Homo sapiens: one gene and its partners. The protein of the gene in region 1 purifies or fractionates together with the protein of each later gene. This does not show direct contact. Each region holds a gene or a part of one and is shown in the gene's direction. Other genes may lie near its edges.

Evidence for each region.
Region 2: the proteins of CAB39L (region 1) and STRADA purify together in Homo sapiens (affinity purification with mass spectrometry; 3 studies listed by BioGRID and IntAct, with this or other methods). This does not show direct contact.
Region 3: the proteins of CAB39L (region 1) and STK11 purify together in Homo sapiens (affinity purification with mass spectrometry; 4 studies listed by BioGRID and IntAct, with this or other methods). This does not show direct contact.

The regions. Positions count from the first base shown.
Region 1 is NC_000013.11:49,437,336-49,441,086, reverse strand, and holds part of CAB39L (calcium-binding protein 39-like), read left to right. Parts: intron 1-3,751. UniProt on the Homo sapiens protein: Component of a complex that binds and activates STK11/LKB1. In the complex, required to stabilize the interaction between CAB39/MO25 (CAB39/MO25alpha or CAB39L/MO25beta) and STK11/LKB1.
Region 2 is NC_000017.11:63,735,069-63,738,819, reverse strand, and holds part of STRADA (STE20-related kinase adapter protein alpha), read left to right. Parts: intron 1-3,751. UniProt on the Homo sapiens protein: Pseudokinase which, in complex with CAB39/MO25 (CAB39/MO25alpha or CAB39L/MO25beta), binds to and activates STK11/LKB1.
Region 3 is NC_000019.10:1,215,634-1,219,384, forward strand, and holds part of STK11 (serine/threonine-protein kinase STK11), read left to right. Parts: intron 1-634; exon of another isoform or gene 635-765; intron 766-2,783; coding exon 2,784-2,867; intron 2,868-3,690; coding exon 3,691-3,751. UniProt on the Homo sapiens protein: Tumor suppressor serine/threonine-protein kinase that controls the activity of AMP-activated protein kinase (AMPK) family members, thereby playing a role in various processes such as cell metabolism, cell polarity, apoptosis and DNA damage response.

The DNA.
Region 1 (3,751 bases):
TTAAGGAAAAGATGAAATCTTTGAAAGAACCACATAAATTCAGAAATAAGAGCTCAGACATGAGATACGTAGGAAGTTCTAGCCAGAGCAATCAGGCAAGAGAAACAAAAGGCATCCACATAGGAAAAGAAGTCAGACTATCTCTCTTGGCTGATGATCTGATTGTATACCTAGAAAACCCTAAAGACTCCACCAAAGGCTCTTGGAACTGATAACTTCAGTAAGTTTCAGGATACAAACTCTGTACAAAAATCAGTAGCGTTTCTATACCAATAATGTTGGAGCAGAGAGCCAAATCAAGAATGCAGTCCTGTTTACGATAGCCATACACACACACACACACACACACACACACACACACACACACACACTGCCTAGGAATACCTCTAACCAAGGAAGTGAAAGATCTCTACAAGAACTACAAGACACTGCTGAAAGAAATCATTGATGACACAAACAAATGGAAAAACACTCCATGCTCATGGATTGGAAGAATCAATATCATTAGAATCGCCATACTGCCCAAAACAAGCTACACATTCAGTGCTACTGAATGTGTAGCTTGTTTCAAATTATACTTTGAGGCTACAGTAACCAAAAAAGCATGGTACTGGTACAAAAACAGACATATAGGCCAATGGAGCAGAATAGAGAGCCCAGAAATTAAGCTGTACACCCACAGCCATCTGGTCAACAAAATTGACAAAAGGAAGCAATGGAGAAAGAACTTCCTATTCAATAAATGGTGCTGGGATAACTGGCTAGCCATGTGTATAAGACTGGGCTTCTACCTTACACCACATACAAAACTGGACTTCTACCTTACACCACATACAAAAATCAATTCAAGATGGATTAAAGATTTAAATGTAAGAACTCAAACAGTAAGAATCCTAGGAAAAAATCTAGGAAACATTCTGGACATCAGCCTTGGGAAAGAATTTATGACTAAGTCTTCAAAAGCAATTGCAACAAAAACAAAAGTTGACAAGTAGGACCTAATTAAACTAAAGAGCTTCTGCACAGTAAGAGAAACTATTAACAGAGCAAACAGATAACCTGCAGAATAGGAGAAAATATTTGCAAACTATGCATCTGACAAAGGTCTAATATCCAGAATCTATAAGGAAGTTAATTCAACAAGCAAAAAAAAAAAAAAAAAAAACCCATTAAAAAGTGGTCAAAAGACATCAACAGACACTTCTCAAAAGAACAAGTGGCCAATAAACAGATGAAAAAATGTTCCACATCACTAATCATCAGAGAAATGCAAATCAAAACCATAATGAGACATCATCTCACGCCAGTCAGAATGGCTCTTACTAAAAAGTCAAAAAACAACAGATGTGGGCAAGGCTGCAGAGTAAAGGGAACACTTACACACGGTTGGTGGGAGTGTAAATTAGTTCAGCCACTGTGGAAATCAGTTTGAAGGTTTCTCAAAAAACTCAGAACTACCATTTGACCAGCAATCCCATTATTGGGTGTATATCCAAAAGAAATTGTTCTACCAAAAAGATACATGCACTCATATGTTCATCATAGTGCTAGTCACAATAGCAAAGATGTGGAATCAACCTATGTGTCCATCAGGGATAGATTGGTTACATATGAACCGTGGAATACTATGCAGGGAAGGAATGCAATAAGTGTTGAAAAACTAACTGTTGAGTATAATGCCCAGTACCTGGATGACAGGATCTGTCATACTCCAGACTTCAGCGTTACACAGTATACCCATGTAACAAATCTGCACATGTACCCCCAAATCTAAAAGAGAACTTGAAATTATAAAAAAGTAAATAAAATTCACCTCTTTCTATGTTTTCAGGGGAAAAAAAGAAATGAGATGGCTAGACCATAGAAGGAGGTGCAATGAGAGCAGACAAAACTCAATAAAAGATTAAGAAAAAGACAGTTTAAAGTGATGATTGCATTAGAAACCAAGAGTGAATATACATCACAGAAAGTACGATAAGAAAAATGGAAAAATGAAGAAAATAAAAAGATTTTTAAAAAGGAGTCAAGAGGTGACAAGACAGGCAAAGAGAGCCAGAATAAATATAAATGGAGTTCCCCAAATGTAAGCCCAAGGATAGTGGTGATGTTTATGTAACACTGAATATACTTAATGCCACTTATTGAATACTTTAAAACAGTAAATTTTATGTTCCTTATTTTACTACAGTAAAACAAAGCAAGCCAAAGCAATGGACCAGAACAACTATTAGGACTGTAATTCAAGAACGCTTAACATTAAAGTAGGTTTAAATGTAACATATGTTGAAAGGCATACTGTAAACCTGGAGAAATCAACCCACAACAGTTAACACTGAGATGTGGTCCTGTAAAATTGTTGGATTTTTAAAAATAAACCCTTCTTGCATTGATGGGGGAAATAAAAAGAGCAGGTCACTTGCAAAGAAAATCAGATTGGATTTTTGGTGGCAACATTTTATGTCAGATATTAAGAAAGTATTTATTCAAAGAAATAAAATAATTCCTATCTCACCAAACTACCCTTCAAGAATTCAGGGCATTGACAAACATTTATAAACATGAAATAATTCAAGGAAAATGGCTATAATTGTTCCCATGAATCCTTCTGAAGCGTATACTAGAGAACAAATTTCAGACAACCAAGAAATGATTGGAAAATCTTCAACATAAGGTCAGGTGGTGAGCAAATCAAATATATTTTGTGTGTAGCATCAAGATTAAAAGATGAGGATAATGATGATAGAATAGTATATAAATATTACATGGTCTGACATTGTAGAAATAATATAACCCGCAAAAAAATGGGAGGAAAAGAGGAGGGTGAATGAGAAGTAGAATAAGGTTGTTTGCCTTTTAGGCATTAGCTGGGAGAAAAAAGCCCTTGAAGCTGACAGGTGGAAGCTTAAACATACTCAGAAGTGCAAGATAGAACACTAATAAAAATAATACCAGCTGGACACGGTGGCTAATGCCTGTAATCCCAGCACTTTGCGGGGCTGAGGCAGGAAGATTGCTTGAGCCCAGAAGTTTGAGACCAGCCATCCTGGGCAACATGGCGAAAGCTTGTCTCTTAAAAAAAATAAAAAATAAAAAAATTAACTGGGCGTAGTGGCACACACCTGTAGTCCCAGGTACTTAGGAAGCTGAGAGAGGTCGGAGGATCTCTTGAACGCAGGAGGTCAAGGCTACAGTGAGCTGTGATTGCGCCACTGCACTCCAGCCTGGGCAACAGAGTGAGACCCTGTGTCAAAATAATATTAAATAATAACCAGCAATTTGCAGGGAAGCTTAAATTTCGCTTCTGAAGGTTTGATAACTGAGTTGGCTGAACTAAACTAACAGTAGGTTAACAAGAGAAAACCCATACAAATTTATTGATATGTAAGCATACATTAATAGCTAGCAAAATGTCTATGGGCATGCAGGGAAATCAACACTGCAGTCTAGCAGAATCCATGGAGAAGTGGCAAGCAAGGTGGAGACTGTAAAAAAAGAGGAGAGGTTGCAGGACCTAGGGGTAGCAGAATACAGATAATTCCCAGAAAGAGAAAGCCCCACCCTGGATAGAGAAGTGAGAAGAGGTGTAAGATCCATTAGACAAAATAAGAGACTTGAAAGAAAATGAGACCAAAGACGCAGTCTCATGAAAGTACTGCTTCTGGGGAAAGGAAAGAGGGTGCCTTGGAAGGGTCACCATCTACCTGGAGGCTTGGTGATAGAGAGAAGGGGTAGTAGAAATTAAGGATCTTGG
Region 2 (3,751 bases), on another chromosome or scaffold:
ACTCTGCAGCCCAAGCTGGAGTGCAGTAGCACAATCACAGCTCACTGCAACCTCCTGCCTCAGTCTCCCGAGTAGCTGAGACTACAGGTGCATGCCATCACACCCTGCTAATTTTTTGTATTTTAGGAGAGATGGGGTTTCACCATATTGCCTGGGGCAGTGTGGAACTGCGGAGCTCAGGAGATCTGCCTGCCTTGGCCTCCCAAAGTGCTGGAATTACAGGCAGAGCCACTGGGCCTGGCCTCAATTAATTTAATCATTTTTTGTTTTAGTCCTTTAATGATGGACTTCTGTAATTCTAAACAACATGTTTAGACTTTCCACTGACAGGAGAGACAGAGAAATGACTAGTGAAGCTTCTCCTTATTTTTCCAAGAGAGTAAAGGTCATGCTGAATCTCACACCACCCCCTCCTCACTGCCTCCCAACTTTTTCTTTTTTTCATTTTCTTTTTCTTTTCTCTTTTTTTTTTTTTTTTTGAGTCGGAGTCTCGCTCTGTCGCCCAGGCTGGAGTGCAGTGGTGTACTCTCGGCTCACTACAACCTCCGCCTCCCGGTTTCAAGCAATTCTCCTACCTCAGCCTCCCAAGTAGCTGGGAGTACAGGTGCCCGCCACCATGCCCGGCTAATTTTTGTATTTTTAGTAGAGACGGCGTTTCACTATATTGGCCAGGCTGGTCTCGAACTCCTGACCTTGTGATCTGCCCGCCTCGGCCTCCCAAGGTGCTGGGATTATAAGCGTGAGCCACCGTGCCCAGCCCCTTCTTTTCTTTTTTCTTTTCGTTTCTTTTCGTTTATTTTCGTTTTTCTTTTCTCTTCTCTTTTCTTTTCTTTTCGACGGGGTCCCTCTGTGTTGCCCAAGCTGGAGTGCAGTGGCTCAATCTCAGCTCACTGCAGCCTCCACCTCTGGAGCTCAAGTGATCCTCCCGTCTCAGCCTCCTGAGTAGCTGGGACCACAGGCACATGCCACCACACCTGGCCAGTTTTTTTATTTTTTATAGAGTTGGGGTTTCAAACTCCTGGGCTCAAGTGATCCACCCACCTCTGTTTCCCAAAGTGCTGGGAACACAGGCATGAGCCACTGTACCCAACCAGCACCTCCAAACTTTTGATAGTTGAATCCCTCTATTTTTACACTTGTTGGTTACCTTTGTAACCTTAAATATTGTACATAACTTTCTATTTGTTATCCTATCAACTTTCAGTATTAACTTTACCTTCTTAGGAAGATAGGGGTATTAGCTTCCCCAGTCATTCCTCTATCTCTTCCCTGTTCCATTTCCCATCTTCTGTCAGGTGAAACTTTACTTTCATATTATCAAATTTGAAGGCATTTACATTGTGTTCTATAACTGTAATTAAGTTTATCATGCTTTGTCTATAGACTTAAAATTTATAAGCTGATGATGAGCACTTAACAGTATTGTAAGTATTATTCACAAAACAGCCAAGTGTTATTCTGCACTGCGGTCCACTGTCCTAACTTCCTTCTCATTCAAGGTCAAGTGGATTTTCTTTCTCATTCCTTGCTGAACTATCTCAATTTTTTTTTTTTTTTTTTTTTTTTTTTTTGAGATAGAGTGTTGCTCTGTCACCCAGGCTGGAGTGCAGTGGCATGATCTTGACTCACTGCAACCTCCGCCTCCCAGGTTCAAGCGATTCTCCTGCCTCAGCCTCCCCAGTAGCTGGGACTACAAGCATGTGCCACCATGCCCAGCTACTTTTTGTATTTTTAGTAGAGACAGGGTTTCACCATGTTGACTAGACTGGTCTTGAACTCCTGACCTCAGGTGATCTGCCCTCCTCAGCCTCCCAAAGTGCTGGGATTATAGGCGTGGACCACTGTGCCCAGCCATGCTATCTAAAAATTGTAACACATTTAAGTTTGTTTCAAATTCGGACTTTGACTTTTAAAATATAGTTTTAATTTCTGTTGGAATTTTTGGTTGCCTTTCTGCTTGATTTTTTTTTGGTGGGGGGGGCGTGGGGGGAAGAAATAGGCCACTTTCCACCCTGTCCGTGATATTTTTCATCCTTTATAATCTGTATATTTCATGATATTATTATATTTTCTTCAACCTGCCAACTTCATGTTCTAGTTTTGACTGATTCCTTTCTTGATCAGCTTCGTAGCTATCATCTTGAGATATCTCTTCAGTGGACACACCACTTTATTATTATTTTTTTTTTCTTGGGGCAGAGCCTCACTCTGTCACCCAGGCTGGAGTGCAATGGCGTGATCTTGGCTCACTGCAACCTCTGCCTCCCAAGTTCAAGCAATTCTCCTGCCTTAGCCTCCCGAGTAGCTGGCATTACAGGCACCTGCCAACATGCCTGGCTAATTATTGTATTTTTAGTAGAGACAGTGTTTTGCAATGTTGGGCAGGCTGGTCTCAAACTCCTGACCTCAGATGATCCACCCGCTTCAGCCTCCCAAAGCTCTGGGATTACAGGAGTGAGCCACCGCGCCCGGCTGGACACACCACTTTTTATATCTCATAGCTTCCTTTTTAAATTTTAGCCTCATTTTACTGGAATATTATTTGGAGTACATTAAAATAATTTCATTAAAAACCGTGTATGGGGCTGGGTGCAGTGGCTCATGCCTGTAATCCCAGCACTTTGGGAGGCTGAGGCGGGTGGATCACCTAAGGTGTTTGAGACCAGCCTGGCCAACATGGTTAAGCCCCGTCTCTACTAAAAATACAAAAATCAGCCGGGCGTAGTGGCACATGCCAGTAATCCCAGCTACTCCGGAGGCTGAGGCAGGAGAATCCCTTGAACCCAAGAGGCAGAGGTTGCAGTGCGCCAAGATCGCACCATTGCACTCCAGCCTGGCCTGGGCGACAGAGCCAGACTCCGTCTCAAAAAAAAAAGAGGAATAGAAAAGCTGCTGACTGGGAGCTCTGTGGATTTAAGACTCATGGACATGAGTGGGCAGTTACGCCAGGGGCTTGTTTTCAGCCCCACTTCTCCTTCCCTCATTCCTTATTGCGCAGTTTTGTTTCAGAACCCCTTAGGATTGTCTGCTGGGCATATCTGCCGTCTCCTCTACTATACTCTCCATTCACATTCTAGCCTGCAGCTTTCTCTCCATTTCCTGAGACAGCACCCTTATGTCCACTTTTCAACTCCTAGAAATTTATTGAAATTTCATCTAATAGCTCCTCTCATTCTGTCCTCAGATATATGGTTATTATTTGTATTCCTTTGCCTTAATTGGGACCTTGGGAGAGAGGTGAGATTCTAAAATCTTAAATCAGAAACCTGAAATCTAATCTTTCTAATTCTCTGAAAAAGTTAATTTTAAGGTCTCTCCTAGAAACATAAGCCATTATTATAAGCATCACTATCAGAGGGAGAAAGATATTTGTCTCAGGTGTCAGACGGATGTCATTAACCTCATTTTAGAGTTATTAACGTTGAGATTCGGCAAGCCAAAGTATGCTGATCAAGTTAACACAGATGCAAGAACGCAATTCATACCATGCTCGTCTTATTTCAGAGTATGTGCTTTTTTTACTACGCCATATTGTCACCCTTAAGTATAAATCTCTGACTTCAGGTTACTCTTAATGAGCCTTTAGCCATGTTTTAACCTTATTGATTATTCTTACGATTTGTATAGTAACATTATGGGTGAAATTAGCTCACTCTTTTTTTTGAGACAGAGTCTCGCTCTGTCACCCAAGCTGGCGTGTGCAATGGCACGATCTCGGCCCACTGCAACCTCTCCCTCCTGGGTTCAAACG
Region 3 (3,751 bases), on another chromosome or scaffold:
CCCTGGGACTGGTGCACTGGGAGGGAAAGGTGAGCCAAGGCTTCCTGCAAGAGGCAGCCCTGAGCTGGGGGTGGGGAAGGCTGGGTCGTGGGATACCCCTGACACCCCAAGTTTTTTTTTTGAGATGGAGTCTTGCTCTGTCACCCAGGCTGGAGTGCAGTGGTGAGATCTCGACTCTCTGCAACCTCCGCCTCCCAGGTTCAAGCGATTCTCCTGCCTCAGCCTCCTGAGTAGCTGGGATTACAGGCGCCCATCACCACGCCCGGCTAATTTTTGTATTTTTAGTAGAGACAAGGTTTCACCATGTTGGCCAGGCTGGTTTCGAACTCCTGACCTCAGGTGATCCACCTCGGCCTCCCATAGTGTCGGGATTACAGGCGTGAGTCACCGCGCCTGGCCCCCCAGCTGTTTTTTATGCTCCATGCTTGGGCTTCCTGTTAAGAATTAAAAAAGAAAAAAAAAACTATGGAGATGGAATTTACATACTGTACAACTCATTCGTTCACAGTGTACAATTCAGTGGCATTAAGTACATTCACACGGCTGTGCAACCACTACTTCTAATTCCAGAACGTTCGGTCACCCCAAAAGCAAGCCCCATTCCCATTGTGTCACTCTCCATCCCCTCCACCAGCTCCTGGCCACTCTGAATCCACTTCCTGGCTCTGGATTGGCTTGTCCTGGATATTGCATAGAAATGGGATCCTGTCGGCCGGGCGCGGTGACTCACGAGAGCAAGAGATCCAGACCATCCTGGCCAACATGGTGAAACCCCATCTCTACTAAAAATACAAAAATTAGCTGGGCGTGGTTGCGGGCACCTGTAGTCCCAGCGACTCAGGGGCTGAGTCAGGAGAAATCGCTTGAACCCGGGAGGCAGAGGTTGCAGTGAGCTGAGATCATGCCATTGCACTCTGGCCTGGCGACAGAGTGAGACTCCGTCTCCAAAAAAAAAAAAACAAGAAATGGGATCCTGTCATCCCAGCGTTTTCCGAGGCCGAGGTGGGCAGATGACTTGAGCCTAGTAGTTCAAACGAGACCAGCCTGGGCAGCACGGTGAAACTGTCTCTACTAAAATACAAAAATTAGCTGGGCATGGTAGCACACGTCTGTAGTCCCAGCTACTTGCGGGGCTGAGATGGGAGGATCGCTTGAGCCTGGGAGGTGCACTCCAGCCTGGGCGACAGGGAAACCCTGTCTCAAAAAAAAAAAAAAAAGTGCATCACACACTGTGTGTCCTTTAGTGTCTCACTGTGACATCCTCAAGGTGCAGCTAGGCTGTGGCTCGAGTCAGAGCCTCACTGGTTTTTGTGGCTGAGTCTTGTTGAGTGCGTGGATGGGCTGTGCTGATCCTCGTCTGTGGAAGGGCCCCTGGGTGGTTCCACATCTCGGCTGCTGTGCGTCCTGCTGCTGTGAGCATCTCGTGCTCCGTTTCTGCGTGGCGTGTACTGTTCCTCAGGGTGTGTACCTGGGAGTGGAGCTGCTGGCTCACAGGGTAACAGACCTTTGGAGAAGCTGCAGACGCTTCCACGCCCACCCACTGGGTGTGAGGACCTTGCTCCTCGTCATTTTTGTTTTTGTTTAATTTTTTCTTTTATGAGACAGGGTCTTATTCTGTTGTCCAGGCTGGAGTGCAGTAGCACGATCACAGGTAACTACAGGCTCAAGTGATCCTCCCACCTGAGCCTCCCGAGTAGCTAGGACTTGAGGCACGTACCTCCACACCTGGCTAATTTTTGTATTTTTAGTAGAGACAGGGTTTCGCCGTGTTGCTCAGGCTGGTCTCGAACTCCTGAGCTCAGGTGATCCACCCGCCTCGGCCTCCTATAGTGCTGGGAGAAATGAAGTGTCTGCGACAGGGCGGCAGCTGCAGAGGGGGCTGTGCTCTCTGGCCTGTTGTGCCCCACCCTTGTGACAGGCAGGTGGGCGTGGCCAACTGGGCGGCAGCTGCAGAGGGGGCAGTGACAGGCGGGTGGGTGTGGCAGGACCCCACAATGTCTCTTTCTGTGGCGTCTCCTTCTTCGCCTGCCCCTTCCTATGGGCCATCCTTCCAGCTCACCTGCGGCCCACCCTCCAAGGAGTGGGACCCTCGGAGTTGGGAGCCCTTGGCTGCGTGGGACTGTACTGTGTGACGGAGCCATCACCAGGGCTCCAACTCACCCTGGCTCCTGCCACAGTCTGGGCTCCATCTGTGCTACCATTGCAGTAGTCTGGTTTCTAGGAAGCAAAACTGTTACTGAGTTACAAAGCTCAATTAAGAGTGTCCTTTGGGAGGCCGAGGCGGGCGGATCACAAGGTCAGGAGATCGAGACCATCCTGGCCAACATGGTGAAACCCTGTCTGTACTAAAATACAAAAAAATTAGCCGGCTGTGGTGACACGTGCCTGTAGTCCCAGCTACTCGGGAGGCTGAGGCAGGGAAATCACTTGAACCTGGGAGGCAGAGGTTGCAGTGAGCTGAGATCGGGCCACCGTGCTCCAGCCTAGGGACAGAGCAAGACTCTGTCTCAGAAAAAAAAAAAAGTGTCCTAACTGTGTCCTCCAAAGCCCTCGCCGGCCGATGACAGACTAGAGGGCGCTGTGCTCCCACCCCCTACCGCCCTGAGCCTGGACGCGTGGCCCCTGCAGGGCCCTTTCCCACAGCACTGTGAACTCACAGCTTCTCTCTAGGGAAGGGAGGAGGTACGCCACTTCCACAGGGAGATGGGGAGGCCGACTCCAGGGATCCAGGCCATCATCCTGACGTTGGGTCGGCTGATACACCCCTGTCCTCTCTGTCCCAGGGAAATTCAACTACTGAGGAGGTTACGGCACAAAAATGTCATCCAGCTGGTGGATGTGTTATACAACGAAGAGAAGCAGAAAATATATCCTTTCCGGTGTTGGGACCGCGGGGCCTCCGTGGGAGGGGCTGGGGCCCTGGGTCCGCCTGCCTCGAGGCCTGCTCCTCTTCCCGTCTCCTTGAAGGAGACTGGCACACGAGGGCCGTGGCCTTCCCTGGTTCCCCGGAAGTCAGCCATTGTGGCAATGGCTGCGCAGCTTGCTGAAAGGGGCCCTGAGCCCTGGCCCCTGTGTCTTGGGCCCGTGGGGTGTCAAGTCCCTTTTTTCTCAGAGTCTCCTCCCAGGCTAACCAGGGGTGTAGCCACGGTCTGCCTGAGACAGGCCACGCGGGCTGACCGTTGTGGGCCATTTTGGTCGTGGCTGGGCGTGTCCTCGTGTCATCTGTGGACACCCCCATGGGTCTTACGGGCACAGCCTCCCTACGGGGACTTTGCTTCCTAAGGCCCTGTGCCCAGAGCAAGAGCCAGAAGTGGTCCTGAGGCTGGGGCTGTGTTCCCTGAGCCACGCGGTCAGGGGCCCTGGGACCGTCCTGCATGGGCCCGAGCCTGCTTGGGGGGGCGTCCAGGAGGCACCATCCCCCGCCCATGGGCAGGGTGGGGGACGTGAGCCCCGCAGGAACGCTGCCCCAAGAGTCAGCCCTGTCCTCCCCTTCCCCGTAGGCTCCTTCCTCCTGGGACGCTGGGGCCCCTGGGCCTTTTCAGAGGGGTGGCTGAGGGCAGGGTGGGCCCTGGTCCCGAGGAGGGGCAAGGTGGGTGCAGAGGGTCCCTCCAGAGCCCCTTTTCTGGCCCCCGTGCTCCCTGGGCCTGTGAGTGGGGCCGCCCCCTGAGCTGTGTGTCCTTAGCGCCCCACGTATATGGTGATGGAGTACTGCGTGTGTGGCATGCAGGAAATGCTGGACAGCGTGCCGGAG